Linked DNA regions of Homo sapiens. The protein of the gene in region 1 purifies or fractionates together with the protein of each later gene. This does not show direct contact. Each region holds a gene or a part of one and is shown on either strand. Other genes may lie near its edges. The genes, in order: KSR2, MYDGF, FAM162A, SLBP, PRKAA1, MEX3D and URI1.

Region 1 (4,409 bases):
GCTTAAATATGACTGTTGTAAAATCACATGTTCCACGTCAATCACTGTAGGGCATTCCCAATGCTTCAGAAAAGAGATCACTCTCTACACTACGGCTTCAGACAGGGCTTGGTAAATCACAGTTCATGGGCCAAATTGGGCCAGGTACCTGTTTTTATAAATAAAGTTTTATTGGAACACTGCCATGCCCATTTGTTTACCTATTGTCTGTGCTGGTTTTGTGCTACATGATAGAGTTGAGTAACTGCAACAGAGACTGAATGGTCTGCAAAGCCTAAAGTATTTACTATCTGCCCCTGTACAGAAAAAGTGTGCCAACCCTTCACTTACAGAATCCTGCCTTTTTAAAATGGTGATAAAATATACATAATATAAAATTTACCATCTTAACCATTTTGAAGTGTACAGTTCAATGGTACTAATTACATTTGCATTGTTGTACAACCATCACCACCATCCATCTCCAGAATGTTTTCATCATCCCAAATGCAAAGTCTATATCCAATAAATAACAACTCCCCATTCTCCCTCCCCTCAGCCCTGGCATCCACCGTTCTACTTTCTGCCTCTATAAATTGTCTACTCTAGGTATCTCATATTGGTGGAATTATACAGTATTTGTCATTATGTGTCTGGCATATTTTACTCTTAGCATGCTGTCTTCAAGGTTCACTCATGTTGTAGCATATATCAGAAGTTCCTCCCAGGTCGGGCATGATGGCTCATGCCTGTAATCCCAGCACTTTGGGAGGCCAAGGCGGGCAGATCATTTGAGGTCAGAAGTTCAAGACCAGTCTGGTCAACATGGTGAAACCCTATCTCTACAAAAACTACAAAAAATTAGCCAGGCGTGGTGGCACAGGCCTGTAGTCCCAGCTACTTGGGAGGCTGAGGCAGGAGAATCACTTGAACCTGGGAGGCAGAGGTTGCAGTGAGCTGACATCCCACCACTGCTCCAGCCTGGGCAACAGAGCTAGACTCCGTCTCAAAAAAAAAGAAGTTTCTTCCTTTTTAAGCCTGAATAATATTGCATTGTATAGATAGACCACACTGTGTTTACTCATTTGTCTACTGATGGACACAGGTTGTTTCTACTTTTTGGCTACTGTGAATAGCACAGCAACCTGCCTAATCCTCGAGTCTCACCCTACATCACACACCTGCTCTCTCCCCCAAAGGGGTCCTCTGTCAATTTCCCCAACGTGTCCTGCTTCCTACCACCTTCAACTGAGATGAGCCGTGGATATAAAATACACATTCAATTTCAAAGACTTTGTATTTTAAAAAATGCAAAATATCTCTGTAATGATATTTTACATTGATTCTTTGTTAAGATATTATAATTTTGATATATTGGGTTGAATGATGTATTATGATCATTAATATCACTTGTTCCTTTTCATTCTTTTTAATGTGACTACTAGAAAGTTGAAGGTTAATATATGCCTCATATCCTATTTCTAGGAGCGGCACTAGGCTAGACTCTGCAGGGGTTGGCAAACGTTTTCAGTAAAAAGCCAGATGGTAAATACTTTCAGCTTTGTGGGCTATTCTCACTCTGCCATTGTCACACAAAAGCAGCCATAGGCAACACATAAAGGAATGATCATGGGCGTGTTCCAATACCTTTTATTTACAAAATCAGGCCGGGTATCAGATTTAGCCCCTAGGCCATAGGATATTAATCGTATTTTTTAAACGGCCAATTCTGGGAAATTCTGTTCTATTCATTTGCTCAGAACCCTCTGTGAAAAGCCATTTTTCATTCAACCAGAGTCTGGAACGCAAGTCTGTTCCCGGTTTCCTTGACCTGGGCAGTTCCTGGGACCAAGGGGCAGCCCCTCGCAGGCCGGGTTTCGACCGCCCCAGGGCACCCACCGATCGCACTCACTTGGGCGTGTGGGCCTCGTCCACGCGGTGCCCCAGCTGGAACTCGTGGGATTTGCTCCGATGCAGCGCGGTGAATCCCGGGATCAAGTGTATCAGTTTTCGGGAGGAGGGCGGTGGGGTCCCCGGGGGCTTCAGCTTGTTCTTCTTCCTCATGGGCGGCGTGCCCGGCGGGGTCACGGTGGTGACGATGTTGGGGGTGCGCGGCGGGGTGCGGACCGCGTGCCGCTGCCGGGGCGATGGGGGCAGGGAACGGTGGCCCGACTCCAGTGGCGGGGGCGGGCACAAGCCCGGGTAGGCGTCCACGGTAAGCCTGTCCACGTGGGTGTACACAGGGGCCCCGGGAGTGGGGCTGGTGTGACAATAGTGCTGGACGCACTTGGACGGGACCCTGGGGCTCTGGGAGAGATGGGTGCGGATCCACGGGGTGGGCTCCGGGGGGCACACGGGATTGTTCTCCTTCCCCGTCTCTGTCGTGGGCCACTGGATGGTCCAGTCTTGTTTGGAAAGGTTGCCTCCTGAGTTGGAACAGAAGAGCAGAGACAATGGGTAAGCCATGAGAAAGCCAGGTGAGTTACACCATACACACCATTACATCATACACACATTACACCACGTGCCCATTACATCATGTGCATGTTACACTATATACCTGTTACATCGTATGCATGTTATCTCATATGCAAATTATATCTTATGCACATTATACCATGTGCCCATTACATCATATGCATGTTACACTATATACCTGTTACATCGTATGCATGTTATATCATATGCACATCATATCATATGCATGTTACACTATATATCTGTTATGTTGTATGCATGTTATATGCACATATCATATGCACATTACACCATATGCATGTCACATTATATGTGCATTACATCATATGCATGCTATTTCATATGCCCATTACCTCTTACAGACATTCTATCAAATGCATGTTACATCATACCCACATTACATCATAAGTACATTTACATAAAGCCAACCATCTCTACTTGGCTCCTCCAAAAAGACAATAAAATCCCCTTGTTGACCCTGTTACCCTATTCTCCATTCAACAGCCTTGCCTTCCACTGCCCCATAGCTGGGAAGACCCCACAGCCCAAATGCTCAGAAAAGCAAAGAAGTTAATTCTCACTTTTTGAACTTCCCAAGGTCCCAGTTCTGGTAGTTTCAAAGTGATTTAAAGGACTTTAAAGGATAACTTTTCCCTTACATGGAAATTTTAATACCTAACCCTCATGTGAGATACACAAATTCCAAGGAAGTCAAGTTCATCCTTAGTCCCTCCCTGACCACTTCCTCAGCCACCGCATACTTCCTCCAGATCTGTGTCGCCATGTTCTTATTCATGCATTTGTCCAGTAAACATCCTGTGAGTGCCAACTATGCCCTTTGCTTGGAAAAGACACAAAAGCAACACAGATGAGACCCTGGTCCCCTGGACTTACATTCTGCCAAAGCAGCCATGATAGACAAGAAAACATGCTCACAGAAGGATTTCACATGGTTATTGGTGCTGGGAGGGAAATAAACAGAATGACGTGATAAAAAGAATATGGGCAGCTGGGCACGGAGGCTCACACCTGTAGTTCCAGCAATTGGGAGGCCGAGATGGGCAGATTACTTGAGGTCACGAGTTTGAGACCAGCCTGGCCAACATGGTGAAACTCCATCTCTACTAAAAATACAAAAAAATTAGCTAGGTGTGGTGGCGTGTGCCTGTAATCCCAGCTACTCAGAAGGCTGAGGCAATAAGAATCGCTTGAACCCAGGAGGCAGAGGTTGCAGTGAGCTGAGATCGCACCATTGCACTCCAGCCTGGGCAACAAGAGTGAAACTCAGTCTCAAAAAAAAAAAAACCTTTTTTTTATTTTATTATTATTATACTTTAAGTTTTAGGGTACATGTGCACAATGTGCAGGTTAGTTACATATGCATACATGTGCCATGTTGGTGTGCTGCACTCATTAACTCGTCATTTAACATTAGGTATATCTCCTAATGCTATCCCTCCCCTCTCCCCCGACCCCACAACAGTCCCCAGAGTGTGATGTTCCCCTTCCTGTGTCCATGTGTTCTCATTGTTCAATTCCCACCTATGAGTGAGAACATGCGGTGTTTGGTTTTTTGTCCTTGCGATAGTTTACTGAGAATGATGATTTCCAATTTCATCCATGTCCCTACAAAGGACATGAACTCATCATTTTTTATGGCTGCATAGTATTCCATGGTGTATATGTGCCACATTTTCTTAATCCAGTCTATCATTGTTGGACATTTGGGTTGGTTCCAAGTCTTTGCTATTAAAAAAAAAAAATCTAAAAATCTAATGGTGTATTAACATTTTTCATTCATTTGCCATATTGACAGTGCAAATACAAATTTGGTCTAAAGACACAGATTCTCATGCAACCACGTAAAGCCTTTCTGCATCCTCCATGCTAAGAGCTCTAAATGCATAAAGATCCAACAACACCAAATGTGCAGGCTTCAAAACCATCTAAGT
Region 2 (4,207 bases), on another chromosome or scaffold:
TTTTCTTTTGAGACAAGGTGTCACTCTGTGGCCCAGGCTGGACTGCAGTGGCGCGATCTTGGCTCACTGCTGCCTTGGACTCCTGGGTTCAGGCGATTCTCCTGCCTCAGGCTCCTGAGTGGCTGGGATTACAGGTGTGCCCCACCACACCTGGCTAATTTTAAAATTATTTATTTTTTGGTAGAGATGGGGGTCTTGCTATGTTGCCTAAGCTGGTCTTGAACTCCTGGTGTCAAGAGATTCTCCCACCTTGGCCTCCCGAAGTGCGGGGATTCACGGGCGTAAACCATCCTGTCTGGTCTGTTTTTGTTTTTTAGTCACTGTTGCAACCCAGCTTCAAAAAACTACGGGAGGCTGGCCACAGTGGCTCATGCCTGTAATCCCAGCACTTTGGGAGGCCGAGACAGGTGGATTGCTTGAGCTCAGTTCGAAACCAGCCTGAGCAACATGGCAAAACGCTGTCTCTATCAAAAGAAGATGCAAAAATTAGCCGGGCATGGTGGCGTGTGCCTGTAGTCCCAGCTACTTGGAAGGCTGAGGTGGCAAGATCGCTTGAGCCCAGGAGGTGGAGGTTGCAGTGAGCCGTGTTACACCACTACACTTCAGCCTGGGTGACAGGAGAAGACCCTGTCTCAAAAGAAAAACAAACTAAGGGAAACCAATGCCCCAGGCTGCAGAGAGCAGGTCGGCCTTGGAACATCCTCCCGCGCTGGGGCCTGTGGCAGCCACAGAAACCCGGGTGTGAATTCACAACATGTGGGGGACCCAGGGACAGCGAGTGCCAAGGGGGGAAGGGGGCAAGTTCACATACAGCCACCTTGGGATCTAGCGCTTTGATGCCTGCAGAGAAGTCCCACCCAGAGACACCGCCCACCCGCCCACGGTGGGGCAGTGTCAGCCGCGTCTGAGCTCCTGACCCGCAACGGCCAGCCGGGAGGGCCCAGGCTGTGGGGTTGCTTTTTAATGTTCTTATTTATTTAAATATGAAAAAACATTTCATCTCTTCCCAGTTCATCTGAAAGGAGGTCCCCTGGGTAAACATAGGAAAGCAGTTCTGCAGGCTCATGAAGGATGCTCGGCTGGAGGTCGGGGGGAGCATGGCTGCTTTCCCCAGCATAGCCCCCATGTTCCCCACCCTCTTTGTGCCCCGGATCTGCGATCCTGAGTCCAGAAGAGCTCAGCAGGAAGTGGGAACTGAGAAGCTGTTGGGAGCCAGGAGGGCCCTGGACCCTCTGTTCTCTGCCCCAGGGCTTCAGCCACCCTGCAAGCCCCTCCGGACAAGGCAACGTCAGCCCAGGTAGAAAACTTAAGAGTCCCTCCTAGAAAACCAGTGATGTGCTGGCCCTTTCAGGGACACAGGCCCCTTCAGCTTCACCGGAGATGAGAAGGTGCCACCCGCAACAGGGCTGCTGGTCACAGCTCAGTGCGCGATGCCTTGGCCACAATCACCAGCTTGGACAGCTCAGCTTTGAATGCCCCGGGCCTGTGAGCCACTGCAAGAAAGAAACACATGGTTGGGCCCTCAACATTGAAAATTCTCAGAAGTCCGGAGGATTTGGGGTGGGGCCCATGGTGGGGGCTAAGCAGGCAAGGGGAGCAGTCTCCAAAGCAGACTCCCATGTGAAAAGGCCCCAGGCACTGAAAGTCTTACGGGTGACAGACAGGAAAACAGTGATGTGGAGGGTAAGGTCGGTGGGGCTAACATAGATGGCAGGCAGCAGGAAGCCACAGAAAGACCTGAGGTGGGAAGAACCCTGGTCATTTGTGCCATGTTGTCAAGAAGAGATGCAGAAAGGGGCCAGAAGAAGCCCAGGAAGGAGATGATCCCGGCCTGAACAGGATGCAGGGTGGGTCAGGCTGCAAGACCTCCTGCTCAGTGGGTGAACCTGTCTGAGGCCCTCATGACACTTCTCCAGCAGGGTCAGAACTCTGGCTTCCACTGCTTCACCCAAGTCTCCCGGCCCTACCTGCTGTGTCCACTCCCTTGGCTCCCACCCTTGCCCCAGCTCGGCGCCTCCGATTCCTCTTTCTGCTTAGCATTGGCGCCATGCAGCTGAATGTGGCTTGAGGACACCGGTGCTGCTCAGGCAACCGAAGAAGGACCCTGATGTTTCCCAGTGACCCCTGCAGCCTCCCCTCGGCATGCCACAGTCCCAACCTCAAAGCCCTGATGGTTTCTACTTTGTTTTATTTCATTTATTTATTTTTTAAAATTTATTATTTTTTTTGAGATGAGAGTCTTCCTCTGTTGCCTAGGCTGGAGTGCAGTGGTGCAGTCTCGACTCACTGCAACCTCCTGCTCCTAAGTTCAAGAGATTCTCCTGTCTCTGCCTCCTGAGTAGCTGGGATTACAAGCATGTGCCACCATCCTTGGCTAATTTTGGTATTTTTAGTAGAGAAGGGGTTTCACCATGTTGGCTAGGCTGGTCTGGAACTCCTGGCCTCCCAAAGTGCTGGGATTACAGGTGTGAGCCACCATGCCCAGCCCTGTTTATTGTTTTTGAGACAGAGTCTTACTCTGATGCCCAGGCTGGAGTGCAGTGGTGCGATCATAGCTCAATGCAGCCTCGACCTCCTGGGCTCAAATAATCCTCCCACCTCAGCCTCCTAAGTAGCTGAGACTACAGGTACACACCACCATGCCCGGCTAATTTTTTTTCTTTTTGAGACAGAATCTTGCTGTCTTCCAGGCTAGAGTGCAGTGGCATGATCTCAGCTCACTGCAACCTCCACCTCCCAGGTTCCAGCAATTCTCCTGAATAGCTGGGATTACAGGTGCGCACCACCACGCCTGGCTAATTTTTTGCATTTTTAGTAGAGATGGGGTTTCATTATGTTGGCCAGCTGGTCTGGAACTCCTGACCTCAAGTGTTCCGCCCGCCTCGTCCTCCCAAAGTGCTGGGATTACAGGCGTGAGCCACCGCACCCAGCCTGATTTTTAAAAAAATTTTGTAGAGACAGGGTCTCGCTATGTTGCCCAGGCTGGTCTTGACCTCCTGGGCTCCAATGATCCTCCCACCTTAGCCTCCTGAGCAGCTGCGGTAACAGGCATGAGCCACCGCGCCCAGCTAAGATAAAGTTCTAGTGGCACACAGCCACACCCACGCATGGACATACTGTCTGCAGCAGCTTTGTGCCACAATGGCACAGCTCTAGACAGAACCCACAGTGCCACAAAGCTGAAGATATTGACGAGGTGGCCTTTATAGAATCAGTTTGTGGATGCCTGGTCTACAGTCTCCAGGACCCCTATGGCTGACCCCCCTCTCCAAACTGCCCCGATTGCCCACCCTTGGATGGGGGTGGCGTCACCTCTACCCCATCCCCATCTTTCCGTACCTGCTGTTTTGGTCACTTCAAATTCCTCAGTTTTCAGAGGGACATCACTTTCCCTTTCAAATGCGGCTTTAGACTGAAAAAGAATGAGTGGAAACTTTACCAGGGCCAGTTCAATGCTCATCATTAGGAAAACGATTGAGTTTGCTTTCCAGAGAAGCACAGACTAAAGCTTTCTACTTTTACTAGAGATGGAGAGGAGACTTTTTTGTTTTTGAGCCAGGACCTCACTCTACTGTCCAGGCTGGAATGCAGCAGTGCAATCATAGCTCACTGCAGCTTCAAAGTCCTGGACTCAAGTGATCCTCCTGCTGCGGCCTCCTGAGTAGGTGGGACTATGGGTGCATGCCAACACGCCTGGCTATTTTTTTTTTACTTTTGGTAGATATAGGGTCTTGCTATGTTGCCTAGGCTGGAATCAAATTCCTGGCCTCCAGCAATCCTCCTGCCTCAGCCTCCCAAATTGCTGGGATTACTGGCGTGAACCGCCGCGCCTGGCCTGGAGAAGTCTTTTCTGGCATATACAAGAGAAGCCAGCAGCAACAGGTTACCAAACCCCCGTGCCCCTGGCCTGGGGGCGTCTGTGTGCCAGGTTCCTGCAAGTTACACACCCTACCTCTGCAGGATTCGCTGTCCCCTCTCCTCCCTGTCCCCATGGAGCCCTCTTGTGGCAGGACATCTCACAGCTGCCCCAGTGCACAGAAGCCACACCCGGAGCCTGCCCCACTCCAAGATACTCACGTAGGCCATGGCGTACTCAATCTCAGCGCCCCGCACCTCTGCCTTGAACTGTGTGAAGTACAGATAGGACTTCCCCTGGGGCCTGCAGAGGAAGAGGGGGCGAGGGAGTCAGGCCAGGCCTGCTGGGTCT
Region 3 (4,409 bases), on another chromosome or scaffold:
TTTTATTTTGCAATTATAACAACATGAAAGCATAAACAAACTTTAATATCATTACTAAGACCTTCGTTTTCTCTCAAAGAGACAGAATATATTGACCAGACGTCCAAGCCAGAAATTTTCCATCCTCTGGTGGATCACGATTAAAAACATACAAACCAAAAGAAAAACAGCCCTTTAACCCTCTAGCTGGACTTAACAGCTTGTCCCTGGCTGACCAATTCTGTGTCTCCAGGGCCCTAGCAGGAAGTTAAGATGAAGCCTCACAGCTGTCTCTAAGGCTCTGGGTGGCAAACGGCTAATCTTAAGAGTAAAGGTTCTTAACTTTTTTATCTATCGAAATCACCTGGGGGACCCTGTGAAACAGATTACTGGACCCAACTGATACAGTCAGTATGGACAGAACCTGAGAATGTGCACTTCTAACAATTGCCCAGGTAATGGTGAAACTTCTGCTATGGGGGACCCATAATCTGAAAACCAGTGCCTTAGAAATATCATTGCTAGCTGGAGGCTATAGTGGTCAGCCAGGGTGAGGCTGGTTGAAGTACCAGCTTCTCTCCTGGTAGTCCCCTCCTTTCCATAAATATCCTTTCCAACCCCATGATAGACAGTGAGGAAAGGTAGGGATGCTTTTTCTTTCTCAGAATCTTTCAAGGTCCTCTTGGAGAAAACCATAGGTGATGTGACTGGAGATATGACAACTCTCTGGGAATCAGAGAATCAATATTACAACCCACTCCCCAGAGTGTCTATCTGAAACTCTCTAGGCCTTAGCTGTTGACCTGGGCTTTGTGACAGAAACAGACTCCCTATATCCGTTTTCTCATCCTTCCCTGCAGGCTTGAAGAAATACCAGTCTTCCTTTATTCTTAAGTAGTAATCCCTCTGCTGAGGGATGTCGTACCAAACTTATCCTTATTTTCCACTGCCTTTTTCCTGCCAAATGTTATCTCCCCCATCTTTAAAATCAAAACTAAAAAACTTATTTTTTTTTTTAGAGACAAGGTCTCACTTTGTCACCTAGGGTAAAGGGCAGTGGAGAGATCATAGCTCACTGTAACTTTGAACCGGGCTCAAGCGATCCTCCTGTATCATCTTCTGGAGTAGTTGGGACCACAGGCAGATGCCACCATGTCTAGCTAATTAAAAAAATTTGTTTTGTAGAGATCGGGTCTCACTATGTAAAAACCTTTGTACCACCAAGTTGTTACACACCATGTTATGTAAAAAGCTTTTAGTAAAACAAACTTTAAATGATAAAAGTAACACTTGCTCATTACAGAAAATTTGGAAGTTAAAAAAAGATGTGAAGAAAAATAAAAGCACTCATAATCATAGCACTTAGGGATAACAACTTGGTGCATTAATATTTCTTTTCAGACCTTTCCTATACTTACATAAAACATATACATTTTTCATAATCAGATAATACTGTATCTTGCTATGTCACAAATACTTTCCAAGATATTAATACTTTTAATAGCTGTATAAAACCCGACACACAGCTATAATCTGAATGTAGTAATTCCCTACAACTTGATTTCTTTCCAATTTTTCAGTGTTATAAGTAATGTTTCAATGAACAGTTCTCTACATACATCTTTGATGGTATTTCTGATTATTTCCTTAGAATAAAATCCTGGAAGTGAAGGGTAAAAGGGTATGAACCCCTTTAAGTTTCCATCTATCTATCTCATCTATCTATCTATCTATCTATCTATCTATCTATCTATCTATCTATCTATCTATCCATCTATACTACTTTCCAGAAAGGCTGACTACTTCTCCAGTAACTTCTACTAGTAGTTACTGAGAATTCTGTCTTATTACTCTACAATAACACTGAAGGTCCACTATGTTGGACAAAGCATTCACTTGTTCTCAACAGGTACTATTAATAAAATTCTTATTTCCTCTTTTTCATAGCTCAAATGATTGAATAAATGGCATGTATCTACTACTTCACTTCACCACCCACACTTTATTTTGCTACAATGTTTCCTTCTCCAATCATTTTACTAAAATTACTCTACCAACATTAGTGACCTCTTTCTAGTCATATGAATACATTTTTTTTTTTTTTGAGACGGAGTCTTGCTCTGTTGCCCAGGCTGGAGTGCAGTGCTGTGATCTCAGCTCACTGCAAGCTCTGCCTCCCGGCTTCACGCCATTCTCCTGCCTCAGCCTCCTGAGTAGCTGGGACTACAGGCGCCCACCACCACGCCCGGCTAATTTTTTGTGTTTTTAGTAGAGACAGGGTTTCACCGTGTTAGCAAGGATGGTCTCGATCTCCTGACCTCGTGATCCGCCCACCTCGGCCTCCCAAAATGCTGGGATTACAAGCTTGAGCCACCGTGCCCGGTCATGAATACATTTTTTTAGATTCTCATCATTAGCCCTTCTGACTCTACTCTTCCCATTTTTGTGGCCATTTGATTCGACTGATCTCATCTTTCTACAAGGATTCAATGCCTCCTTACATTGTACCACCAAATTCTCTCACTTCATCTCCAACCTCTATGACCAATCTTCTTTAATGTCTTCTTTCCCAGTTCCTATTATTTACACCATGTCACACCTCCAAGGCTTAGTCCTTGCTTCTATTCTGTGCTACTCTCTGGAAGGACTCCTCCATTCTGTTTTAAAAATCAACTCCAGACTAATTGCTCCCATATCTTTATCTCCATAACTTTACTCTTCCTTTGCCCTCAGGTCTTCAACCTCTCACAACCTATAACTCAGTGCCACCTAAACCTACTCAATAATGCACCATCTTCTCTGCCAAACTAACACAAATCTTTGATGGCGTTTCTGATTATTTTTCCAACTTTCTTATTTCTGACAATGAGGCAATACTTCTGTAGTCCTCAACATTAAAAAACTTGTCTTTAAGTCCTTCCTTACTCAGTATCTCCAAACTCATCCTTTCTTCAAGACACTTCCTAAATATATTCGTTATTTCCATCATCACCTCACACATCAGTTACTGTAATATCTTCATAGGTAGCAGCAATTCAACTGGTATGTAGTTGCTGAGTTAATTTTCCAGAAATGTTTCTTGTGTTACTTCTCCTGCTAAAAGGTTTTTTTGGTCCAAATTCATTTGGTTCAAACGTCTCCAAACACTACACTTTACCTCCTATTGCCTCCTGATCAAAATCCCTAAGGTAATCTTTCCTCTCTCATATCCTTTTTCAGACTCATTACCGCCCCTACATGTGCTCACAACTCATTACCGCCCCTACATGTGCTCACATCACTCTCACACCCCTTCATTTCAATGGAGCCTTCAAGAATCTCAGAATTCTTGAAGCCAATGGTATATTATATATGTTTGTTTGTTCATTGCAATAAATCAGCCCTAGGAGTGGGGCAGTCCATTCATTTTAGAGCCTTCACAGTATACACACAGGGCATCCATTGTGTACTCAATAAATACTTGGCAAGACCTGGAAAGGAGCAATAAGTAAAGCCAAATGTGGGGGTAGTTAAAATGCGTACGTTCTCATTTAGGTTTGGTTAGCAAGAACAAACAAAAAGAATAAGGTAGCAGAATGTGGTAGAAATAAAATCAGAATGGGAGCCAGGGGATACTGGCTATGTCCCAGGTCTGTACCTGTGTGGTCCTTGGCAAGCTGATTCCCTTCTTGGCCCTTAAGTTTCCTCATCTGTAAAAATTAGAGGACTAAATTACCTGACTTCTAAGATACCTCTCTACTCTAATGCTCTGAGATGTGGGTTAAACTAAAAGGAAGGCAGCCCATAGTCCATTACATTGGTAACAATGACGGTAACAAATTCATTTTCAAATCTGACCAGTCAACAGAGTTTAGGGGAGCAAAACTTTCTTTCAATAAGAAACATTCTTGTAAGGTCATTCCATTCCTTTGAACTAATAATCATTCTGTGGAAAGATACAATATCCTAAAAGTTATATCTATTTTATTCTTTCAGGAGAAAACAGGTGTGAAAACTCACCTTACATTTGCAGCATGTTCCAAGATATTTCCTAGCATCCTTCATCCAAAAAATATGTATTGCCTGTCTACTATGAACTGAACACCAATAAGTGGTAAGGACTGAGTAAAAACAAAACAGAGCCAGTGTTTACCCTTATGAAACCCAGCGTAGTGTGGGTAAATGGCCATTTAGTTCCTAATCATCTGTATCAGTGCTTTTTAACTTAAAGAGCATGAACTGCTCTGAGTAGCAGATATAAAATATGGACCCTCTCTCTCAAAAATGGTATACAATCATAAAAATTTGAGAAGTTCACAGGACCTCTCAAATGTGGAGGTGTCCAGTACCACAAGTTAACAACCCTGATCTGTATCTACAACTACATCTACAAAACAACAAATTCGAGCTCATAAAAGCCTACATTATGTTTGCTATATTGTTTGCTAAGG
Region 4 (4,409 bases), on another chromosome or scaffold:
TGAAGACTATCTTGAACTTGAGATGGAACTGAGCTCCTGGATGTGGTTTAACTCAAGCACAGGGGGTACTTTGCCAGTAGACGGAGTCCTGACACAGCAAGGACTCTGACATATACTCCTCCATACACATTGTAATCATAGTGTACATAACATTCTGAATTATTAATTACATGCGCCCGAAAGGTAAATGGATATGCTAGCTATTCTGTATTTTATTTATTTTCTGAGACGGAGTCTCTTGCTGAGGCTGGAGGAGCAGTGGTGCAATTTCGGCTCACTGCAACCTCCGTCTCTGGGGTTCAAGCAGTTCTCCTGCCTCAGCCTCCCTAGTAGCTGGGGCCTACTGGTGCGCACCACTGCACCTGGCTAATTTTTGTATTTTTATTAGAGATGGGGTTTCGCCATGTTAGCCAGGCTGGTCTCAAACTCCTTACCTTGGGTCATCCACCCGCCTCGGCGTCCCCAAAGTGCTGGGATTACAAGTATGAGCCACTGTCCTCTGCCACCATATATATTTTTTTGAGATATGGTCTTGCCCTGTTGCCCAGACTGGAGTGCAGTGCCAGGATCATGGCTCACACAGCCTTGACCTCCTGGGCTAGAGTGATCCTCCTGCCTGGGCCTCCTGTGTAGCTGGGACTACAGGCACGCCCCACCATGCTTGGGTATTTATTTATTTTGGAGATGACGTTCCAACCTTTTTATTAAAATCAACTTCTCACAATGTATAAATACTGCATATTAGCACACATGAAAAAGACAACTTCTAAGGCACCCAGAAATACATTCATACACGTTACAGGACCATTTGCAGAGTGGACAATTTGCTGTAGACAGTCAGCATTGGATAAATCAGAAGATTATCATCCCTCAGTACTGTACCCAGTCTCAGTAAATATTTACAACATGGTGAGAAGGTGTCAGCTGTACCTGCTTTATAATTCTATGAAGTACTCAGACTTACAGATAATTCAGAACTAAAGACAGTCCCATGATAATCTGACAAAATAAAACAAGTAGTCTAAAGTCTTAGTGATTTTGGTGTGTGCTACATCCATGATCAAATCCAAACACTCCTGGGGTGGGCTGGATAAGTTTTTGGTAGCCTGCTTCATTATCAGAAGTTTGTTAATAAGCCTTGCCAATAGAATACCATTTCTTCAGCATCAGTCATTTCTCAACTGGTTAATGGATCAGTAATCTCATCATGAATGAGAATGGAGAGAGAACAGAAGACAATTCTTCTCACACTTAACAGGAATTAGGATGGGTCAGTGCAGTCTGGGTACGGTGGCTCACAGCTATAATCCCAGTACTTTGGGAGGCCGAGGCAGGTGGATCACCTGAGGTCAGGAGTTCGAGACCAGCCTGGCCAACATGGAGAAACTCAGCCTGTATTAAAAATACAAAATTAGCTGGACGTGGTGGCTCATGCCTGTAATTTCAGCTACTCGGGAGGCTGAGGCAGGAGAATCGCTTGAACCTGGGAGGCAGAGGTTGCAGTGAGCTGAGATCATGCCATTGCACTGCAGTCTTGGCAACAAGAGTGAGACTCCGTCTCAAAAAGAAAAAAAAAAAAGAATGGGTCAGTGCAGAACAGGAGGAGGCAGACATTTGGCAAGTACAGGATCATACTGTTTAGTATAGACATGTCTGGAAAATTCTTACCCTGGAGGTTCATATTCAGATGGAGGAGTCTACACTGGCCAGATAACCTGGAGGAATGCCAGACCTGCACTTTTATTATATGGATACAGGCTTGGGACTACACAGCGGAAACACCCACCTGAGATAGCCTCAATTAGAGACTTACCTTGCAGAGCCTTCTCAGTATGACAGCGAATCCCTCTGTATGGCCAGCCAGGGGAAGCACGAGGTTGCTGGAAGTGAGTAGTTGCTCTGCACCGTCAAGCATGCACACATCTGTCTAGATGTGCCCGCGATCTGTGAAACTCGGGCTTTGTTAGAATAATGGAATTCTTTGGTGGTCGGTTTTATGAAAGGCAATATTGTCACAATCCTGTCAACATTGACATTGGTAATGACTTCAAGCTGGGACTAATGGCATAGAGACAAATTAAATACAAGATGGGAAACTCTACACTCTCTGAACTTCTTAGAGTCAACTTCATAAGCTCCAGCATCAGGCCGGATGTTGGATCAATGAGATAAGGTTAACCCATAGAAATGCCAGAACTGAAGCTGAAAACTAGATATGGGTTTTTCTGACTGCCACACACACTGCAAAAATTTGAAGCAAATCTCCCATCTTAATGACTTTATAAACACATACCAGAGATGAACGAAATAAGTTGATTTCAGCCATATGATAGCCCTGGACTACTGAAGTGTGGACACCCAAAAGGAATCATAATTTAGTTTGAAGTCTAAAATCTAGTTGGTTTTATTAGACCCCCAAACACAGTGGGCACACTGCCAAGGAGCTCCATGACTTCTGCTCTAGTAAGACAGCCCTGGATAGACAGATGCAGCTGATAGGTTATGTTCTACATCTAGTTTGCTTTTGTCCTGCTAAACTCCAGTTTAGTATGGTTTGATACACATAGTTCACTGATATAATGCTTTTATTTTTTTGGGTGGGGGACAGAGATGAGGTCTCACTATCTTGCCCATGCTGGTCTTGAACTCCTGGGTTCAAGTGATCCTCCTACCTCAGTTTCCAAAGTGCTGGTATTACAGGCACAAGCCACTGTGTCCCACCAGCCTTTGAATATTTCTTGACATACAGTTTGAAAGAAAACAAAGTATGTGTCATGGTTCAGTAGCATTTTCCTTTTATTGCAGCTTTACCACTCCTGAAGGCCCTAAACCCCGTTCCAGATGCTCTGACTGGGCAAGTGCAGTTGAAGAAGATGAAATGAGGACCAGAGTTAACAAAGAAATGGCAAGGTACACATTTTGGACCACCTTGAAGTGTTAATCTGTGGCGTTTTCAGTAACACATTAAATTTGATATTTGTCTTAGAACAGTGGTTTTCAAAGGTCTGGGCTCCAGACCAAAGGCATCAACATTTCCTGGGAACTTGTTAGAAATACAGATTCTCAGACCCTTCCCTGGGCCTGCGAATGGGGTGGGGCCTGGCCATCCTGTGAAAAGCCCTCCAGGCGGGTCCACTCTTTCAAGCTTGAAGACCACTGTCCTCTTGGTGGTAATCCTTCCAAGAGTGGAAGTAGGTGCACAATGGTGTTACTGCTGGATTGCAGGCTGGAGGACTATCAGAACTAACTTTCTTTTTTTTTTTTTTTTTTTGAGACAGTCTCGCTCTGTTGCCCGGGCTGGAGTACAGTGACAAGATCTCGGCTCACTGCAACCTCTGCCTCCCGGGTTCAAGCGATTCTCTTGCCTCAGCCTCCTGAGTAGCTGAGATTACAGGCACAGGCCACCACGCCTGGCTAATTTTTGTATTTTTTGTAGAGATGGGGTTTCACTATGTTTGTCAGGCTGGTCTTGAACTCCTGATCCGCCCACCTCGGCCTCCCAAAGTGCTGGGATTACAGGCATGAGTCACTGTGCCCGGCCTAACTATCAGGAACTTACTATAGTCATTTGTTACCACCGACCTTCTGTGTGCGGTGCTCACACAACCCAGCACAGTAGATGGAGTGCTCTCTCCAGATGAAGGAATACATTGACACTTGGCTTAGGCAACAAACAGCTCAGAAATGCCAACATACAAGGAAAGGTCTCAAACTTGGATTCTGTGAACCTCTTGCAGTTGCACACAAGATTGTTGTGTGTATCCAAGTTCTTGCAAACTAAGCTACTTCGTCTTCGTTGACTCATTACCTAATGCATCCTTAACCATGTTTAATCTCCCTTGATTATCAGTGTGTTGATCCTTTCTCTTTTGATGAGTTGTCTAACTCAAACCCAGTTGCAAGGACTGGGTTTATTCAAACCCAGTTAAAATGTGGCTCATAATTGGTTGAAGTATTTTACAAGATAATTTTAGCCAACAAGTGGCTGATAAACAGGGTCTCAAGAAAAATGTGTCTTGCGTGTCAGCCGCGGAACGATACCTAGACTACCTGTTTTCATTTTGGCAGCCAGTGATGGTATTTATATCAGCCTCCTTTGAAAAGGGACGGGAATATGTGGGAATTGGTTATTGAACATTTGGGGGAGTTATTTGTCATTTCTTCTGGTATCAAAATGTGTGGGTGGATGTATGCCTTGGTAGAAGAAATGAACTAGGAGTTCACAGATGAGAGTACCAGTGTTTTTAGTGAATTATTGCATTTATATAGGTCTTGACTTCCTCAATTATAAAATTAGAATGTTTGACTTGACTTGTATAGTTTGTGTTGCATGCACAAGTCTTAGAACAGTTCTTGCATACCGATAGCCTAGTTGCTCCCTCAAGTCACCCCTTGCCAGGGGTTATCTG
Region 5 (4,409 bases), on another chromosome or scaffold:
TAAACCAACAATCTAGGGATTAATAAATATTATTCTATAGCAATAAAAAGTAATCCCTCTATATTAAAATCATAGAATCGATGCACTTAAAATTTGGAGGGTATACTGGAAACCATCTCATCCAGCCCCTCACTTTATTGATAAGAAAACAAACCCAGAGAAATGACTTGCCCAAGGTAACAAATGAACAGAAAGGTAAGTCTAGAACCCAACTCTCCTAAGTCTCAGCTCAGTGCTTTTTACTTTCCACTTTCCCTTCATATTTCATTTAGTATTTCATAAAAGAGCAACAATTCCAATGAATAAAAATCGAAGAAAAACTAAGGTTGGGAACACAGTACAAAAACAAAATGGGCATTCAATTGGTATACCCCAGTACTAGTAAATCTAAGGTTGCAAATTTGATCCAAATACAAGAAAAATAAAACTCATTCCGTATTTCAGACTGCATTAGTATATGTTAGCAGATACGTACTATATGGACCTAAAGATAACCAGACAAACTGGTTTGGCCAACATATCATGGCTCAAACCTGTGTCTTTCTGCTACTATGTGTGTACTATCTTTGAGTTTATAAAGAAGAAAAAAATTCAAACGTGAACCTCATCTAATAATTCTATGCAACCTTCCATAAGCAAAGGTGATACTATATATATATATTTTAATATTTTGTAAAGACAGAGTCTCAGTATGTTGCTAAGGCTGGTCTCAAATTCCTGGGCTCAAGCCATCCTCCCACCTCAGCCTCCCAAAGTGCTGGGCTGTTTACAGGCATAAGCCACCACACCTGCACTCAACAGCGTAGCTTAATGCAATTGAATTGGCCAATGAAGAATTGCCATAACTTCATTCTTAACTGAAAACTTATTTAATAATAAATAAAAGCTTACAGAAGAGTCAATATTTATTTCTAAATAAAACATTGTCTCTTATCAAAATGAACTACACCAAAAAAACAAATGCAGCAGAAAACTATCACCTTAGGATCAGACTACACCTGGCTTTAAGGATTTTACAAGATGATAATCTTAAAAGGACAATATGCTATAAGATTACAAGAAAAATAAGATTCATAAATGTTAATATTGCAAAGGCACAAGAAATCACATTTTTTATTCCTTTGCAGTTGAATTACTAGGAACAAGTCAAGAAGCCTCAAAAGAATCAAGGCGTAAAATACCAAGTTAGTAACAAGGTCTAATCTATGTTGTTTTGTGTGATGTACATACCATCAATACTACGGAAATCCAGTAGATAAGTTCTACTATCCACTTGGTATAACTGTAGACTCATTTTGGAGTAAGTGCTTGTCACAGGATTCTTCCTTCGTACACGCAAATAATATGGGTTTACAACCTAGCACATGGTATAACAAAAACCAAGTCAAAAGTAATTCTTCTATAAAACATTTTATAGACTATGGGTTTGCCAAATATGCTAATAATCAAAATGTTATTTCTTTCTTACCTTCCATTCATAATCCAATTGTTTGATTGCTCTACATACTTCTGCCATAATATCATTTGGTCGACTTTGACTTCTAATTCCTAAATGCCATTTTGCTTTCCTTACACCTTGGTGTTTGGATTTCTGTGGATTTAATTCATCAAGGGTATGGCGTGCCCTTGGTGTTTCAGCAACCAAGAATGGTACTCTTTCAGGATGGGGCCGAGTCAGGTGATGATCATCAAGAAAAGAATCAGGTGGGCTTGTCGCCAAATAGAAATCTTTGGCTTCATTCATTATTCTCCTGTTATCTATTATGAGATGGTAGGCAACTGCCAAAGGATCCTGGTGATTTCTGTTGTAAAGACAGCTGAGAACTTCCTCTTCTGAGCACTCAAACTTTTCACATACTTCTTTTAAGGCTTCATCATCAATCATGGTTGAACTATATGATGGATCCTCAGGAAAGAGATATTTTGGAAGGTCCTGTTTAAACCATTCATGTTCCCTGAGAGAAAAATGGCAGGATCAGGAGAAGGACTTTGAATAGAGCTGAGACTGAAAGTAACAGTTTAGGGAATTTAGAATATGACTTAATTTATATTTATATTCATACTGTATTATTGTCACTTTTTGCACTGAAATTTTCCTCTTCTAGCTCGCACTTCATTGTGTATGTTGAGGGAAATGCTCCAATTTCCCTCCAGTTTTAAGAGGGAGAATGTATTGACACAGCAATGGGGGGAAAAAAGTTATGGGACAAATGACAGCGACAAACAATGAAAAGAACAGCTTATTTCCAGCTTAGAAAGAGAACATATTAGGTAGCTTCATTATAATACTCTTTTGATATAATGTTAAGTGAAGATAATGTAACAACAAGAAAAATAGTAGACAACTACTGAGTACTTACTATATGCTAAGTTTTATGCTAAACACTTCATATACACTATCTCCCCTCATCATCGAAACAATTATATGAAGATAATATCTCTTTGTTTTAAATGAAGGAATTGAGGTTAAAAAAAAAATCAAGGAACATGCTCAAGGTCACAAAGACAGTAAGTGACAGAACCAGGATTATGACCCAGTTCTGTGTGACTGGAAAGGCCATGCCCTGAATGATTTCCTATTCTAATTCCCTAACTTCGTATATTTAAGAATATGTTTGACCTGAACTATGTCACTTTGCTAAAACTAAATAAAATCCAGAGACGAAAAAAAAAACAAGAAAAGAACAATGGTTATCTTCTGGGTCATGGGATTAAAGATAATTTTTTATTCTCTTCTCTATTGTTGGTGTTTTTCTAAGTTTTTTCAATTGTCATGTATTATATTTTAATTGGAAGAAAATAGGTAAAATACAAACAAAAACATTTCTTACCTAGATATCTTAAAATATAAATTTTAGAGAATGATTTGTCCTTTCCCTTTGGTGATAAAATCATGCCGTGCCATTCATGGTCTCTTTTTTAGCTAGTCTAAAACGTGTAGTAAGTGGAAAGTAATCAAGCTTCAAGTTCCACATATAATCTTTCCTTCTTCTTCATTATACTAATGCTTTCATATTTACTATTCCTAGATCCATATCTGATTTCTTTCTTCCTTCTCAGATAAATGTGCAGTCTAGCCATTAGAAGACCAAAAGGACCAAAATTTCCACAGGGGGGAAAAAAAAGAAACAAGGCTTGCAATAAAATTGTTTAAGTCTTCATCAGAAATGGCTCACTCTAATTTGAGAAGAAAATTTGTCATCGTCATTTTTGTCTAATTTAAACTATTAGGTTGAACCAGATGAAACTGGTTATACTGACTTTTACCTACAAAACAGGAATTTTGCATGTAATTCAATGTATACTACCAGGAAAAACATGTCAATTAAATCTCATTCCTTGGGATTAAAAAAAGAAAAAAAATACAATAATTCATGAGATAAGAAATAAAATAGCCACCCACAAATTTACTACTGAAAAGTATTAATCCTAACGCCAGGCATACTGGCTCACACCTGTAATCCCAACACTGGGAGGGAAAGGCACAAGGATCACTTGAGGCCAGGAGTTCAAGACCAGCCTGGGCAAAAATAGCAAGACCTGTCACTACAAACAAAAACAAAAAGCAAAACAATAACAACAAAAAACAGCCAGGCATGATGGTGGATGCCTGTAGTCTCAACTACTAGGGAGGCTAAAGTGGGAGGATCACTTGACCCAGGAGTTACTGGCTACAGTGAGCTATGATCACACCACTGCACTCCAGGCTGGGTGACAGAGCAAAACCTTGTCTCAAAAAAAATAAATAAATAAAAATAAAAGATATACATATATATGGGGCCTCGCTATGTTACCCAGGCTGGTCTCAAACTCCTGAGCTCACATGATCCTCTTTCCTCAGCTTCCCAAAGTGCTGGAATTACAGGTGTGAGCCACAGCACCAATCTTTCATTAGCTTTTTTGTTAATTTAAAAAGTAATATGATGTTCACTGTAAAAATTTCAAAACAAAGATGTGTAAGTAAAAAGTGAAAGCCCTCCCTCTTACGAATCTTACTTCCCTAAGGTAACCAGTTTACTATGTATTTCTAATAACAAAATAAAATAAATGTGTCTATACACTCTATTTTTTTCACATAAAAACAGGATTACACTGTATATTCTGTTCTGCAACTTTTTTTTTTTCACATAACTTTTATCATGGATACTATCAGATCTGATAACTTCCAAACTGCTTTATTACCTGATATCTTTGATTGTGGCCCTCTTCATGGGATCCACCTGCAGCATATGTTTCAAAAGGCTAATCACAGAAGGATTTAAATATTGAGGGGTATAGAAGATCCCATCACATATCTTCTTAAAAAGAGTTGGCACATGGTCATCATCAAATGGAAGGGTTCCACATAATAAAGCATAGAGAATAACCCCACTGCTCCATATATCTACCTCTGGGCCTGCATACAATCT
Region 6 (4,409 bases), on another chromosome or scaffold:
CACTGGGGAGGGCTGAGGCAGAACCGCCTGAACTCAGGAGGTGGAGGGTGCAGTGAGCCAACATCATGCCACTGCACTCCAGCCTAGCCACAGACCAAGACTCCATTTCAAAAAAAAAAAAAAAAAAAGAGCCACAGTGGCAGGGTCAGTGGCTCACACCCGTAATCCTAGTACTTCGGGAATCTGAGGCAGGAGGATCACTGGAGCCCAGGAGTTTGAGACCAGCCTGGGCAACACAGCAGGACCCCATCTCTACTACAAACAACAACAAAAAATTAGCCAGGTGTGGTGGTACACACCTGTAGTCTTAGCTACTCAGGAGGCTGAAGTGGGAGGATCACCTGAGCCCGGGAGGTGGAGGCTGCAGTGAGCTATGATCACACCACTGCACTTCAGCCTGGGTGACAGAGCAAAGCCTTGTCTCAAAAAAAGAAGGAAAAAAAAAAAAAAGACACACACACACAGAGAAGCTGGCCTTGTGGAGACACAGACAGAGACTGCAGTGATGTCTCTACAAGCCAAGGACTGGCCATAGCCCCCGGAAACTGAAGGCGCCCCCCGCCCTGCCCACACCTTGACTTGGAACTTTTATCTTACAGAAATGAGAGAGGAGACGTTTCCATGGTTTCAAGCCCCCATTGTGTCAGCCCAGAGAGCAACTGGAGACCCTCTGACACCACCTCCCGGCCCAACAGGAGGGGAAGCCGAAATTCAGATTGTGGAAACTGCCTACAATTTTCTTCCGGCCAAATGACCCTCCCTAGGCTACCAAGACCCTGGCCTAAGGGGAGCCGAGGTCTCGGCCCGACTGCAGACGCCCGCACCCTGACTCCAGATGCCTCCGAGGCATCCAGGTGGGCCCTGAGGGGCCTGCTGTGGCTTTGTTCTTGTTGGCTGGGCTGGGGGTCTGACCTGGTGAGGGACATGAGTGTCAGTGTGGGAGGCAGGGCTCTCCTCACCGATTGTGTAGGCAACCGCTGACCAGGTATGGCCTTCTTGGGGTCCCAGACATCCCTACCCCACCCCTGGGGCCTTAATGGTTTTTTTTTTTTTCTTTTCCTTTTTTGAGATTATCTCACTCTTGTTACCCAGGCTGGAGTGCAGTGGTGTGATCATAGCTCACTGCAGCCTTCAACTCCTGGGCTCAAGTGATCCTCCCACCTCAGCCTCCAGAGCTGGCACCACCATGCCCAGCTTAATTAGTTATTGAGACGGAGTTTTGCTCTTGTTGCCCAGGCTGGAGTGCAGTGGTACCATCTCGGCTCACTGCAACCTCTGCCTCCTAGGTTCAAACAATTCTCCTGCCTCAGCTTCCTGAGTAGCTGGGATTACAGGCGCCCACCACCACACCCAGCTAATTTTTTTTATTTTTAGTACAGATGGGATTGCACCATGTTGGCCAGGCTGGTCTTGAACTCCTGACCTCAGGTGATCCACCTGCCTTGGCCTCCCAAAGTGCTGGGATTACAGGCGTGAGCCACCACGCCCGGCCTATTTTTATTTTTAGTAGAGATGGGATCTCACTATATTGCCCAGGCTGGTTTCAAATTCTTGGGCTCAAGCAGTCCTCCTGCCTCGGCCTCCCAAAGTGCTGGGATGACAGGTGTGGGCCACTGCGCCCGGCCCGTGAAGGAGTTTTGAGCCACTGCTCACAACCCCTCAGGCTCTGGGGAAGCAGAGGGAGCTGCAGGGATGTTTCAATACAGTCAGAAGGTGGCTCTGAGGGGAAAACAGTGTTGCTAACTCTCCCACAGTGCAAGAGATGAAATGAGCAGGATCAGCACTTTTGACGGGGAAGAAGTCAGAAACTGCCTGGGCCAGGAAGATGGAAGGCGTGGGACCTGGAGGCTGGTGGTCCCAGGGGCTCGGTAGGGAGGACCCTGGGAGGGGTGGCGGGGGTGCACCCACTCGGAGGAGGACAGCAGTTTTCCCGCCCCAGCTGCACTGCCACCACACCTGTCCCTCCCAGTCGCAGCATTCTGTTCACCTCCATTGCACCCAGTCCCCTCCATTCTTCTGTACAGTCCGGTGTCCCCCTCCTCCAGGAAGCCCACCCTGACTGCATCGGGTTGGGCCTGCTCTTCTGAGTCTCTCCTAACATGCCTGACTCTCTGAGCTGCCTCCCTGAGGCTGGAGGATGGGGCTGGGGATTCCCTCGGCACTTGGGGGACCTTGCTATGCCTGTTTCTTCACTGTGAAAGGGGAAGGTAACAGGCCTGGCTTCACAGGCCCGGCTTCACAGGCCCTCAGAGGGCCATGACCAGGCCGTTGGCTCCTGGCAGCCACCCTGGCAGGTCTCACTGCAGCCCACAGTGTTTGCTTTAGATAGATCCTCCTTGAGGAAGGGAAACTGAGGCACAGGGAGTGGAGACCCAGCAAGGCTGGGGAAGGAGGTGCCACCCACAGATGGAGGCTCCGCTGGCCCTGCCCACAGGCAGGAAGTGAGCCTGTTCCCCATCACGCCGACCCGGCAGAGGGCAGAGCCCGCCAGCGTTGCCAGGGTGCAGCATGGGGTCCTCCCTTGCTGATCTGGGAGCCGCCCCGGGTCCCCAGAGGGTCACACGTGGGAGAGGCTGCCCCGACGTGGCCACCGCTGAGCTCACAGGCTGTGGTCACAGAAAGTCTGGTCTGGGTGAGATGACAAATTTGGGAGATGGAGGTGGCAAGGAAGGGGGCGTGTGACTGTCTGAGCAGAAACCAGGATGGTGCTGGGAGCCACGCGTGCGTCGGGGCAGGGGAGGGAACTGGCGCCTCCCCCTCCCCTTACTCCATCCTGCCCTAACCCAGACGGTGGCGCTGGGTGGAGACCTCACAGCTAGAAGGCCTCTAGGACCTCAAAGACGGAGCTGGAGCTCAATTCATTGGTGCTGCGTCTGCTTTGACACGTGCTGGCCCCCAAAACTCCACCCACATCAAGACGCCAAGGGGCCAAGGAATCGGGGCTCCAGGAGTGATCCCAGCCCACCCCTGCCCCACTGGAAATGACACAGCGAGGCTAGAGGGACAGGAAGCCTGAAGGGCGGGCTCTGGGGGACACCGAAGGTTGGCAGGCACTGAAATGCAGATTCGTGGGCCATGTCCCCAGAATTCCAACTCGGAGGGCTTGAGATGCCTGGGAATCGGGGTGACCACCCCAGAGTCTGGCCCTGACCTGTCCCACACCCCCAACCCACAGCAGCCAAGTCTCCCCCTACCAGGGCCCCACGCAGCACACACACCAGCGGGCATCACTCATCCAGCCCGTCCAGGGTCCTGGCTGCAATGACCGTGCACTACGACTTACCAATGAAACCACAAGTCCTGGTGTGGGAGCCGAGGCCACCAGCCCAGGCTGGATGGGTTTGCCATGGCAGGAAGGGGAATGTGAACCCCAGGGAGCCGCTGAGGCAACAGCAAGGACAGGATTCTAGAAGCAGGACGGGGCGAGAACAAGGCCTCACAGCCAACACTCAGTCCAACACGCAGCCGCCCCCAGCCAGGCAGCCGGGTGACGCGGGACAGCAGCATCCCAGACCTGGGCCACTATGGAAGCCAGCGGGAGCTGAGGGGTCTGGTGGGGAGGAGGGAAGCTGGTTCAGCTGTCAAACAGGGATGTCAAAACCCCCTCCCAGGCCAGGAACAGTGGCTCACACCCGTACGTAGTTCCGGCACTTTGGGAGGCCAAGGCAGGAGGATCACTTGAGGCCAGGAGTTCGAGACCAGCCTGGGCAACATAGCAAGATCCTGTCTCTATAAAGGGTGTCACCTGTCGCCCAGGCTGGAGTGCAGTCACAGCTCACTGCAGCCTTGACCTCCTGGGCTCAAGCCATCCTCTCACCTCAGCCTCCCGAGTAGCTGGGACTACAGTTATGCACCACCACCCCCGGCTAATTGTTTAAAGCTTTTCTGCAGAGACAGGGTCTTATTATGTTGCCCAGGCTGGTCTGGAACTCTTGGGCTCAGGTGATCCTCCCATCTCAGCCTCCCAAAGTGCTAGGATTACAGGTGTGAGCCACCATATCCGGCCTCTACAAAAAATTTTTAAAAATTAGCCAGGTGTGGCCGGGCACGGTGGCTCACACCTGTAATCCCAGCACTTTGGGAGGCCAAAATGGGTGGATCACGAGGTCAGGAGATCAAGACCATCCTAGCTAACACGGTGAAACCCCGTCTCTACTAAAAATACAAAAAATTAGCCGGGTGTGGTGGTGGGCGCCTGTAGTCCCAGCTACTTGGGAGGCTGAGGCAGAAGAATGGCGTGAACCTGGGAGATGGAGGTTGCAGTGAGCTGAGATCGCGCCACTGCACTCTAGCCTGGGCGACAGAGTGAGACTCCGTCTCAAAAAAAAAAAAAAATTAGCCAGGTGTGGACCGGGCACAGTGGATCACGAGGTCAGGAGTTCGAGACCAGACTGACCAACATGGTGAAA
Region 7 (4,409 bases), on another chromosome or scaffold:
ATTGCCAGAAATTACATACAGGCCTAACAATAAGATTCTGATTAGTGTCACAAAAGATCAAAATATATATCAATTATAAACTTATAGGAGTTGATTTGCAATTAGAGTCTCCAAATATAGTTCCCAGAATTTCACTGAGTAAATGAGTTCTCTAGTACTCATTCATGTATAAGTGAAATCAAGTTCAGCTTTAGAAAACTCAGCTGTTTTCTGTTTAGTATGACCTTATTTATAAAAAAGGATCTTCCCATCATTTATTTTCAAATACACATTTAACTAAAAGGTTAAAAAGCAGGTAGGGCGGATATTATACTCTCAATCTAAATACGTATTACAGAAATAACAACAGATTATAAACTGAACCTAATTTTAAAATATAACTAAGCTAGAACCCAAGCTAGCTCATCCAACTGCAAAATGTGTAGTGTGTGTTGTGTGTGTGTATGTAGGCTTCTATACACCTACAGATAATAGCACGGATAAACAAAACTCAAGAGCTGCCCTAATAAAGGGATGCAGAGAACTCAAACAACTGAAAAAGGATAAGGGTGCTGTTTTAGGTAGCACCTTTTCACACCTGGTCTCCTCTATCAAATGAAAATATGGTTTTTTTTCCAAACCAAAAAGCATTTTTAAGAATTGTCTACTTATGTAAACAGGTATTTCTCTTAGTTCACTAAGGAGAAAACACATTATTTCTGTGTACTAAAGTATTAAGTGCAAAAATAAGTCTATAATAGCAACTAAAAAAAAATTATAAGGTATAAAATGACTCCAATTTTTATGTCTTCCCAACTTCTAACTACAAAATCACATAATGACTTTGAAACTTTGTAACTTCTGAAAACATGCCAATGTAGGTGACATTTCCAACCCGGATGCTCCATTCTCCAGCTCATTCTCAAATGTTGGTTCTACTCAAACTACCTACAATTCAACAGAATCACAAACAGCCTGGATTCATAGATCACGGAAGGTACTTTTGGTAAGAAACAGCCCTTCAGCTTGGCAATCTGTGAATGGATACATATACAACAAAGAAACATCATTTAAAATGGGTACCTACGTTCTTTCCGGTGCTCAACTAAACCTACAGCCTGCTTTGCTGAGCACTTTGCAAACCAGTTGTCCCCCAGTAAAACAGTGACTTCATTAGTATGGACAAGTTTTCCTGGCATGAAGGCAAAAGGGCCAAATGGTACCTATTGTTTAAAAAAAAAGAAAAAAGGGAAAAAACATAAAACACTGAAAAGTACATTTTATAAAACACTTCGCATTAAAAGCCTTACATAACTGAATTTTTTTATTTATACATTGGGAAAAATAAAATGCCAGCTTCACAGAAATTCAACACTATATTAAAATTTTACTAGGAAAATCTAAAGAAAATTGCTTTATGTTCATAAATCAATGTTAAAACAGGAAAATAAATCCACACCATATTTACATATAGCTCTTAAAGAAAGTAGTACTGTCTCGGCATGTTTATACTTTTCATTCACTTGCAAATCTAAGTGAAAGCAACTAGTAGTGAAACATTGTCAATGCAAAATACTTTTGATAAAGAAAACTAAAAATTATTTTCAATAAAGTAGACACTTTTGCAAAGCAGGAATTAGTAAACAAATAGCTTTAATGGATCTATCTAGCTATATATACAAAATACTTGGACTAGTATAAAAGAACAAAGTCTTCATAAGAAAGAACATTCATGCAATGAAAGGCTCTAATCCAGGGCTCATGAACAGATCACTATGTCGATGTGAAGATCATTAAAACAAAAATTAGCAGCACGTTTTTATATAAAAATCAATGTCCTAAGGTTTAATTCTGTGAATTACAAAACATTATGGCCTATTCCTGCTCTGGCTAACAAGAAACGACTTAGTACCATATTTCTGTCATAATTACATTTTTTATATAGTAAGTTTCCATTTGAAATATGTCCAATTTTGTGCTAATATTTATGTCATTTGTGTCACCATATATATTCTGAAAAAAAAAGGTAAATACCAACAATTACTACAATTACTGTGTTCTTATAAAGTAAAACAAAACAAATCTTCCTTGCTACATAGTTACCTTGGACACAGTCCATCAGCCTGACATTCTGTGAACCGACACATAGTTAATATGTTTACAAGAAACAACTATTACTTTAAAAGAAACACACCAAACATACCATTATATTATAAGACAATTTATCAGGCAAGGTGCTGAGTCTTTCTCGAAGGGCATTATAGTCATTATCTACCTTCTTCCTGTTGACAGAAAACACCAAATACACACATTATTAACGATTTTTCTTTTTTTTTTTTTTTTTTTTTTTTTTTTTTTTTTTTTTTTTTTTTTTTTTTTTTTTTTGAGACAGAGTGTCGCTCCGTCGCCCAGGCTAAAGTGCAGTGGCGTGATCTCGGCTCACTGCACCCTCCACCTCCCGGGTTCAAGCAATTCTCCTGCCTCAGCCTCCTGAGTAGCTGGGATTACAAGTGTGCGCCACCATGCAAGGCTAGTTTTTGTATTTTCAGTAGAGAGGAGGTTTCACCATGTTGGTCAGGCTGGTCTTGAACTCCTGACCTCATGATCCTCCCACTTCAGCCTCCTGAAGTGCTAGAGTTACAGGCGTGAGCCACTGCACCTGGCCTCACTCAAAAGCTTTATTAAATCTCTTCTTTCAGTCGTGTGTGGTGGCTCACGCCTGTAATCCCAGCAATTTGGGAGGCCCAGTAGGCCAGGTATCATAAAACAAGCTAATCAAAAACATAATTTTAGCAAATTCAAGATTAATGTGGTTTTATTTTTAGTTTTAAAATCCTGTTTTTATACAGTTTAGCAATGGCATTATTCTACCATACATTTATTGAAGAATTAAGACTCTTCAGGGACTCTGGCATTTAGAAGCAGAATACTCAAATTTTGAGAATTACTGTTTTTTAAGATACAAGACTATCTGGACCAAATAAAATGTGAAAATTAAGGGAGACAGTAAAAGAGGGCCTGATATTTGGAGAGAAGAAGGGACTCAAGATGAAAAAAGAAGAGATTTATTTATTTTAAGACAGAGTCTCTCTCTGTTGCCCAGGCTGGAGTGCAGTGGCACAATCTCAGCTCACTGCAACCTCCACCTCCTGGGTTCAAGTGATTCCCCTGCCTTAGCCTCCTGAGTAGCTGAGACTACAGACGCATGACACCACGCCCAGCTAATTTTTGTATCTTCCATAGAGATTAGGTTTCTTCGCCACGTTGGCCAGGCTGGTCTCGAACTCCTGGCTTCAAGCGATCCCCCCACCGCAGCCTCCCAAAGTGCTGGGATTACAGGCATGAGCCACCACACCCGGCCGAAAGAAGAGATTTAATAAAGCTTTTGAGTGAATAGATACTGGCTGTGAAGTTGAAATCATGAACATGAAATTTGATCAGATGCTTTAGTCCTCATCAGAAAACCTTAGGCTGAAAAATGCATCATCAGCTCTTCAATTATTCATAATAATGTGATTAAGGTAAGAGAGAATCAACTGGGGGTAGAAGAAATTAAGTAGAGATAATACAAAAGGCGTTTCAATTTGGCCTAGGAGTCTGTTTCTTGTTACATCAAACAGAGCTACCAAATAAGTAATTTCAAACAACCAAAAGGTATATGTAACTCTGTAGGGGCAGAGATGATCGTATTTCCATGCTATGGGCCTTACTCAGCTCTTAACACCTGCTGGAAATGAACAGCCCTTCTTTTTGAGTAATACCAGGCAGCAGCCTATGCCAAGATGCCCGTCAAACTTTCTCTGGAGACTGGGTTTCCAAAGGGTTCCCTGCTAAGATACAGGCTGCAAGCAAAACTACAGCACTGAATTTTTTTTAAGCAGAAGGATGTTGTCAGTTTTTAAAAATAACAGAAACAAAAATTCACCAACTCAGCAAGTAATTTAAAAGAACATGTAGACATTGTCAAATTGAAATCAGGATAAACTGCAATGTAGGTAACAACTCTCCAGATAATATAAATGACAAACATCACAGAATTGGTTTCAGCTTACTGCTTAGTTCCCTGAAGCAACAGTAGCATAATTAATAAAAAAAAATTAGCTCAGTCTTAAGATCTTAAGGAATTTCACATATATATTATTTTACATAACCTATAATAAATGTCACTTATCAGTATTTTTCTCTTACAGAAGACAAAGTAGAAGGAAGATGGAAAAACCACATAGCAAGAAGCCAGATCTCCTCTATCAAGATGAGGTAAGCAATGAGTTTAACCTAGCTAGGTCTTCTGACCTGCATTCCTTCATGAAAGCTTTCTCATTTTCTAGTGTGCAACTGCTTTATAACTTTCCCCAAAAAAAATCCTTTTCTATAAATAAATACGAAACATGTTTTATTCTTTTGTTTAAGGCAAAAATCCTCCTCCTGGA

Evidence for each region.
Region 2: the proteins of KSR2 (region 1) and MYDGF purify together in Homo sapiens (co-immunoprecipitation; one large-scale study listed by IntAct). This does not show direct contact.
Region 3: the proteins of KSR2 (region 1) and FAM162A purify together in Homo sapiens (co-immunoprecipitation; one large-scale study listed by IntAct). This does not show direct contact.
Region 4: the proteins of KSR2 (region 1) and SLBP purify together in Homo sapiens (co-immunoprecipitation; one large-scale study listed by IntAct). This does not show direct contact.
Region 5: the proteins of KSR2 (region 1) and PRKAA1 purify together in Homo sapiens (affinity purification with western blotting; 2 studies listed by BioGRID and IntAct, with this or other methods). This does not show direct contact.
Region 6: the proteins of KSR2 (region 1) and MEX3D purify together in Homo sapiens (co-immunoprecipitation; one large-scale study listed by IntAct). This does not show direct contact.
Region 7: the proteins of KSR2 (region 1) and URI1 purify together in Homo sapiens (affinity purification with mass spectrometry; 2 studies listed by BioGRID and IntAct, with this or other methods). This does not show direct contact.

The regions. Positions count from the first base shown.
Region 1 is NC_000012.12:117,759,120-117,763,528, forward strand, and holds part of KSR2 (kinase suppressor of Ras 2), read right to left. Parts: intron 2,406-4,409; coding exon 1,892-2,405; intron 1-1,891. UniProt on the Homo sapiens protein: Location-regulated scaffold connecting MEK to RAF. Has very low protein kinase activity and can phosphorylate MAP2K1 at several Ser and Thr residues with very low efficiency (in vitro).
Region 2 is NC_000019.10:4,656,592-4,660,798, forward strand, and holds the end of MYDGF (myeloid-derived growth factor precursor), read right to left. Parts: intron 4,160-4,207; coding exon 4,078-4,159; intron 3,413-4,077; coding exon 3,340-3,412; intron 1,494-3,339; coding exon 1,414-1,493; 3' UTR 954-1,413; downstream 1-953. UniProt on the Homo sapiens protein: Bone marrow-derived monocyte and paracrine-acting protein that promotes cardiac myocyte survival and adaptive angiogenesis for cardiac protection and/or repair after myocardial infarction (MI).
Region 3 is NC_000003.12:122,386,723-122,391,131, reverse strand, and holds part of FAM162A (protein FAM162A), read right to left. Parts: intron 1-4,409. UniProt on the Homo sapiens protein: Proposed to be involved in regulation of apoptosis; the exact mechanism may differ between cell types/tissues.
Region 4 is NC_000004.12:1,702,097-1,706,505, reverse strand, and holds part of SLBP (histone RNA hairpin-binding protein), read left to right. Parts: intron 1-2,805; coding exon 2,806-2,910; intron 2,911-4,409. UniProt on the Homo sapiens protein: RNA-binding protein involved in the histone pre-mRNA processing.
Region 5 is NC_000005.10:40,763,284-40,767,692, forward strand, and holds part of PRKAA1 (5'-AMP-activated protein kinase catalytic subunit alpha-1), read right to left. Parts: intron 4,408-4,409; coding exon 4,183-4,407; intron 1,956-4,182; coding exon 1,469-1,955; intron 1,358-1,468; coding exon 1,231-1,357; intron 1,185-1,230; exon of another isoform or gene 1-1,184. UniProt on the Homo sapiens protein: Catalytic subunit of AMP-activated protein kinase (AMPK), an energy sensor protein kinase that plays a key role in regulating cellular energy metabolism.
Region 6 is NC_000019.10:1,557,941-1,562,349, forward strand, and holds part of MEX3D (RNA-binding protein MEX3D), read right to left. Parts: intron 1-4,409.
Region 7 is NC_000019.10:29,983,075-29,987,483, reverse strand, and holds part of URI1 (unconventional prefoldin RPB5 interactor 1), read right to left. Parts: intron 2,262-4,409; coding exon 2,183-2,261; intron 1,203-2,182; coding exon 1,067-1,202; intron 1-1,066. UniProt on the Homo sapiens protein: Involved in gene transcription regulation. Acts as a transcriptional repressor in concert with the corepressor UXT to regulate androgen receptor (AR) transcription.